Linked DNA regions of Homo sapiens. The protein of the gene in region 2 interacts with the protein of the main gene of each other region in a pairwise test. Each region holds a gene or a part of one and is shown on either strand. Other genes may lie near its edges. The genes, in order: PGRMC2 and ITPRIP.

Evidence for each region.
Region 1: the proteins of ITPRIP (region 2) and PGRMC2 interact in binary tests that used the Homo sapiens proteins (3 or more experiments, as listed by UniProt).

The regions. Positions count from the first base shown.
Region 1 is NC_000004.12:128,270,813-128,274,642, forward strand, and holds part of PGRMC2 (membrane-associated progesterone receptor component 2), read right to left. Parts: intron 1,706-3,830; coding exon 1,550-1,705; intron 602-1,549; coding exon 504-601; 3' UTR 1-503. UniProt on the Homo sapiens protein: Required for the maintenance of uterine histoarchitecture and normal female reproductive lifespan. May serve as a universal non-classical progesterone receptor in the uterus.
Region 2 is NC_000010.11:104,311,706-104,314,668, forward strand, and holds part of ITPRIP (inositol 1,4,5-trisphosphate receptor-interacting protein precursor), read right to left. Parts: coding exon 2,703-2,963; 3' UTR 1-2,702. UniProt on the Homo sapiens protein: Enhances Ca(2+)-mediated inhibition of inositol 1,4,5-triphosphate receptor (ITPR) Ca(2+) release.

The DNA.
Region 1 (3,830 bases), on a different chromosome or scaffold from region 2:
CCTGAACAACTCAAATTGATGTGTACCCCCACCTCCCCTGATCAGGTCGCCTCCCTCACCCATGTTAAAATAAAAACACAGTATGTGACACAGGAGTCCCTTGATGTTTCTTGAGGAGATCTGTACACTTGAGTAGCAAATACATATCTGGTTGTCTTCAATATATTTTAAAAAGAAAGAAAGAGAAAGAAGAAAGGAAAGAAGGAAAAAAGGAAGGAAAGAAGTAATATTGTGACTTTCTTGCTCTTTAAAAAAATCCCTGTCTCCTTCTTTTCAGGATGATGAAGCCCCACTAGACATTACAAACAACTGCAACAAATGAGTTTGGCAGCATAAATAATGTCTAGTTATTCAAATCTTCATAGTGAGATTAATTTATCTTGTACACAATTTGTTGAATGTTTTTCGCAGCAGGTGAATCAAACCCAAAGACTCCGGACAGTCTGTGAAAGGGAGTAAGAATTGCAGTTCTGAAGGCCCCTGACTTTGGTTGTTTACAAAGTTCAATCCTGTTTATTGTGATCCTTGGTATCTTCTTCATCTGTATATTCTGATGGTTCTTCTCCTGGTTTTAGGAGTCTGCCTACATAATCATATTTTTCTGAAAGATACATCAAAAGAAAATCAGTGGTGATCAAATTTGTTTCACTATTCCATTATACAGAGAAAAGGCATTTGTCTGTTTTAGAATCATATAAAATATGATTATTAGAATATTATCTAAATATTCTAAAATTGCTTCACCATGGCTGGTCTTTATACACATGTAAAGCCTGAACAAAAGAAAACAGGATTAGGGAACTTATAAGGCTTGGGAATTCTTTGCAAGAGGGTGTTCTGTACCAGTGATTCTTAGTTGGATACTGCATCAGAATCACTTGGAGATCTTTTTTAAAAATGAGTAAGTCCAGGACCCATCTCAGTACCCAGCTAAACCAGAACAGCTGTTCCAAGGGACCCAGGGGTCAGATAAACAGCTGGGACAGCATCACACAAGTGGTAAAAACTGATGTTATGAGGGCATAAGAAAGGGGAAAGATATTTTTTATCTACATTTCGAGTGTTAAGATCTGTAAAATCATTTTGGAATAAATTATAGTATTGAAATCAGTAATCAACTCAGTTTTAAATATAAGCCTGTATTTTTAAAAAACTAAACCTTAATGAAGAAGCTGACTGTAAGTATCACAATTTTTGAGGCTTAGAATTTGTAACAAGTCATTTTTTTAAATATTGATTTTCAAAATAATTATCACATGTAACAATCATATTTTTATTTAGCTATTTTTTGCAATTTCTTTTTTTGGACAAGTCTCACTATGTTGCCCAGGTTAGTCCTTGAACTCCTGAGCTCAAGGGATTCCCATCAGCAGCTAGGACCACAGGCATGTGCCACTTCACCCAGCTTTAGCTATCTTTAAAAATATTATCAAATAATGATGGCAATGAAAACGGATGACATCCTTAGGCTCTTAAAGCATGTAAAATAGTATATATTTTCTTTGAACAAATATTTAATTTTCCAAAGAATCCAACAAAATAAAAATACCTTTAAACTGCATTTCCCATTCTCGAACACTCTCCATTTGTACTGCATTCAAATCTGAGAGATCATCATATTCATCTCTAAGTGCATCTTTATCTAGGCAAAATGTGGCCAGTCCTCTGGAGGCATCCCTACCAGCAAATATTCCATATGGACCCGCTGGAAAAAAGAAAATAAATTATTTAGATCACCTAACAATATTTTAGAATGTCTCAAAGGAAAAAGTAAAAAAAAAAAAAAAAAAACACAACAAAGAAAAAAACCCCTCATAATTCACATTTGTATATACCCTTAATTTCAAAACATGTACAGATACTAGATGGAATAAGAAAAGAAATTTGTTGGAAATCTGCCTTTTGACCCAAGTAAAGCTTTTCACTTAGATCTTAAAACCCTCAATTTCAATTACTTCAGATATCCCCAAACTTAATATTCAAAATGAAGACTGTGAGGTAATGAGGGAGAAGAAGAAACTTAAGTGGTTAGGTTTAGAAGCCAGTCTGCTTGAGGGGAAATAATGTTTACTGGTTGCTGTTAATAGTGGCATCAAAAAAATAAAAATAATCAACAGAACATCATGTATTATGTAAAGACTCAGCTGAACTTGAATCTGTAACATTTTTCTTTCTGCTATCCTTATGAAGGTTGTAATTCTATGAGAAAAGAGACTGTATCATCTTTGTGGTCCCAGTGACTAGTTCAGTGCTCAACACGCATTTAATAAATCTTTGCTGAGTGGTTTAATAAAAAAAGACCCATATTCAAAATAAATCATCTGACTACCATAATATATATACAATGATCTATATAAACTAGGAAAAGTCATTAAGGAAAATAATAGCTCTTACTTGTCATGACTTTTGGAAAACAGAGGAAGTAGCTATAAGGAATAATTCTTCTGGACTGACACATTAAGCAATAATTAGCATTTTATCCAAGGAATTGGGTACCATTCTCTCTGAGGAGAAATGGCATGACTGATGTGTTGACAAAAACCATTCCCAAGGTTTGTCCTTGAGAACAGCAATTTGTTCATCAATTGAGGATTTGTATCCTCAATGCCTAGCACTGTGCCTGGCATAAAGTAGGAACGTAATAATTTTCTTCCAAATGACTTAGCTGTAGTTCCGAATAAAAAGAAACTCAAGATTCTGTAAACAGATTCACTTATGGTAGGCAAAGACACTATTATGAACAACAACAACAGAGTGGTGAAAAACAGGGCTTATAAATAAAAGAACAAAGTATGTTCTGATAAGTAAACAAGCAGAAAAAACTAGAAATTCCTTGATTTTTAAATGAGCGAAATGATTATATTCATATATAAAAGTATTTAGGAAACTGAAAGTTATGTGTCAAAAAGTCTCTGTACCTTCTGAGAGTAGAAATCGAGGTTTCACTTAAATAGATATCTAAGCATTTATGAGTATTAATTTGAGTTGCTAACAGCACTGTACTATAAAGTTAACCAGATGTGAAATTCATTCTCTGAAAAGTTTACTGCATGGAACTAGAAGTAGCATTAGCAATAATTTTAAGAGTAGCATTCATAGGTATTGATACAGTAACATGAAAGTAAAGCTAACAGTTCCAGTAAAGTACATTTGTATTCTGCTTTTCTTATTCTTATTGCATTTTCCATATTGCTACATCGTATCACATGACTATCAACAATTATTTATCATTGAATGGTTATATATTATCCCACTGAATGGATGTGTACCTGTAATTTATTTAATCAGTCTTATTAACATAGGCTACCATTTTATACTTTCAAATGTGTCTTCTATATAAGAATATGGAACACAATTTACCACTGGCCAATATTCGTAACCTTCAAACTTTTTCTATCATCTCAACTGACATTCAAAAGGGTATTAACCAGGCCAGGTGCGGTGGCTCATGCCTGTAATCCCAACTCTGTGGCAGCAGTGTTGAGGTCAGCAGTTTGAGACCAGCCTGGCCAACATGGTGAAACCTCATCTCTACTAAAACTACAAAAATTAGCCGGCTGTGGTGGCGCACGCCTGTAATCCCAGCTACTCAGGAGTCTGAGGCAGGAGAATTGCTTGAATCCAGGAGACGGAGGTTGCAGTGAGTTGAGATCATGCCACTGCACTACGGCCTGGCCGAGAAAGCAAGACTCCTTCTCCAAAGAAAAAAAAAAAAAAAAAAAAAAGGTATTAACCAGTTATGTCTGTGTGTGTACATGCACATGTGCGTGCAAAATTCTACACACTTTGTGGCAATGGGTGTTTTCAGGAGGACAAGGAGAGAGACAGAG
Region 2 (2,963 bases):
CTTGGGAAAGAGACTCTGGGGAAAGAGGGCAGGGTTGTCCTTAGTGGAAAGGCCAAAGTCCCCTAGAGGACTCAAAATCCTCTATTTAAAATACAATCTCTTTCTTTAAAACCCAAAAGCTTCCTGTTAGTTCCAGCTCCTATATTTCTCGCTGACATTAGCTCTGTGAAATAAGGTCTTAGGCTGGAATCCACCCTACAGCCAGCTTTCAAAGGCCCTTTCTGGAGCCCTGCGGGCAGCACACAAGTTGCCTCAAAGACAGGGTAGAAATGTTCTGTTTTGTTATTTTTTAAAGTCTCCTGAAAGTGTAAGAATAAAAAGGGAGTGAAAGCTTCTGCTTTGTCAATAGGAAATCCACCCCCCTGTCCCCAACTCTGCCCTGGGAGCCTCACAGATTTCCTGAAGTTAAAAACAAACAGTGACCATTTCTACTCCTTGCAAGATTTAATTCTTCCTTTAATATAAATAAGGCAGCATGAAACACCAAGAGCCCCACTGCTTTCTGCTTTAGAAGCAGCTTTGGTGCAGAAAAGATTCCCGTTTCCCCACCGAGTTCTGTTGTCTCTGTACACACAAGAAGCCAGAAGATATTTTTTTTTCAGTGAACTTTCTCCTGGAAGCAAAGGAGAAGCTATGGGAGATCCAGGCATGGTTTTGGCTTCTGGAGGCTGTTTTTTGGTTACTGGGGTCTCTTCAAAGCAAAACGGGATCAGGATGAAGAGGGGGAAAGGCATGGGCCATAAATAAATAAGGAAATTTGCCCCGATTCTACAAATGCATCTGATGGAATGAGGAGGGTCAGGCTGTGAGGGATTGGGGGTAGCTCCAGGCTGCTGTTAGGGACACACTTGAGCTGGTTCATTCCCTGGAGTGCCCCGCAACTGCGTCTAGGGAGAGGCAGGCCCAAGCACATGTTCAGTCTAATTCCAGCTCACACTGGAAGGCTTCCTATAGGTTTGGTTGCCCTGATCACAGCCGAGCTGCCCCACCAGGAATTAACCCTGGTGGGCAAAGGGTCCATCTTCTCAAGCTTTCTGAGGCTGGTTGAGAGCACTCCTGGGGATGGGGGAAGGATCTCCTTCCTTCAGTTTGTGGGGTAACTGGGCACCCCTGTCAAGTTGGTTATGCTCTCGGGAAGGCATGGCCGGCTTAAACCCTGGAGGAACACGGTATATTCTTGACTCCCTGGCCCCCTGCAAGGGTAACTGAAGTAACGGTGAGATAGGAAATCTCAAAGGGCCAGTGAAGCCACAGGTGGAAAAGAGCCTTCCTGATCCCCCTGAACCAGACCTGGAGACGGAGCCCAGCTCCAACCACAGAGCTTCTGCCAGGCTCTTTGGGTCTGGGTCATCTGTGTGGTCAGCAGTGCCCACACAGAAGGGGTGGGTTCTGTGCAGTGAGGGAGCCCCGCTGGAGTGAGGAACTAGGGGCTCAGAGCCTGCAGACTGGAGCTAGGTTTCCATAGTTCTTGCTTCCATGCACACCCTGCCCTAGGATTGGGACCCTGAGGACAACCTGGGGCTATGACATCCTTGGCCCCTGATCTCTGCAACTTTCTCTGAACTGGGCCAGACTGCAAGCCAGACACCACCACCCCGGGTAGCATTTTTGAGCACCTCATCGAAGGAGTCTACTGTCTTACAGCAGAGACTTCGCTGCAGGACGCAGGGCCAGAAGAGGTTGAGAGGCTTGGCTCTGCGCACAGCCTCTGGGAGTGCCATGGCCTCAGGTGCCTTGTGGTTGCCAATGAAGAAGTGATAGAGTTTCTTTTCCAGCTGTCCTTTGCCACAGTCACCCCGTGTGTCTCTTTCTCCAGGTCAGCTTCCACCTTTAGCATCTGTCCTCCCCCTACCACAATGATAGTCAGAAAGACCAGCTTTGGAGAGAATAAAGAGAGGTGGGGGGCTGCTGAGCTGGCACCCAGTGTGGCAAATACCCACCACGCTCGGGACCCAGTACGTTGGGGAAAGGACAGCAGAAGGGGGTGCACCTGAGTGAGAAGTGTAGGGTGCAGCTGAGTGAGAAGTGTAGCTGAAAAAGTGGCTAATTGTGTTTCTCTATGCCACCAAGTACCCATTTCCGTGTGACAGAGACGTTAGTCATTTGGGCCTCGAATTTATACAAGGTCTTTTCTCCAAATAGTATAAAAAAGTGGCAGCCATGGTGGGACCACTATTGTGCAGGATGCGGATCAAAGGTGGACATTCCCATATCTGTCCCTGTTAGTGCTTTGGCTGCAGATGGTCAGGCCAGAAGCTCCTGGGAATAGGGGTGCTGGGTCTTAACACGGTTCCCTGTCAGCATTCTTGTAGATCCTCTGCTCATATTCAAGTACAGACTGGATCTGGGATTCAAAAAGAATTACACCCAATCCAACATTTGCATTGTCTCTAACTCAGGGTCCACAGCGTGTTCTGCCACCATCTTGGCCATTCATGGTGATCCAGAAGTAAACTGCAAGGGATCAGTCCCTAAACCCAAATAACAGCTTTACCAGCAGATCCCAATGGTATGAAGCAAACCAGCTTCCCGTTGAAATTCTGTTTCCTCTGCACTGTAGGGCTTGGCTTCCTGGCAGGCTGAGCACGGCTCCCACGAAAGCCCGCCTTGTCCCCAGAACAGGGCTGGCAGATGCCACCAGGGGTGTGAACGTGAGGGATGCCCTCATCTTAGCTCGAGGATCCCACATTCTGTAAAAGACGTCAGCTTTTTGGGGTAGGCTGGTCTGAGGGGACATGTAGGGAATACTCGCTAATGAGCGCTGGGGCATTCTTGAGCATCTCATAGAAGGAGTCCAGTGTCTTACGGTAAAGGCTTCGCTGCAGGACGAAGGGCCGGAAGAGGTTGAGGGGCTCGGCCCTGAGCACGGCCTCAGGGAGTCCCATGGCCTCAGGCACCTTGCGGTTGCCGATGAAGAAGTGGTGGAGCTTCTTCTGGAGCAAGCTCTTCTCCAGGAAGCACAG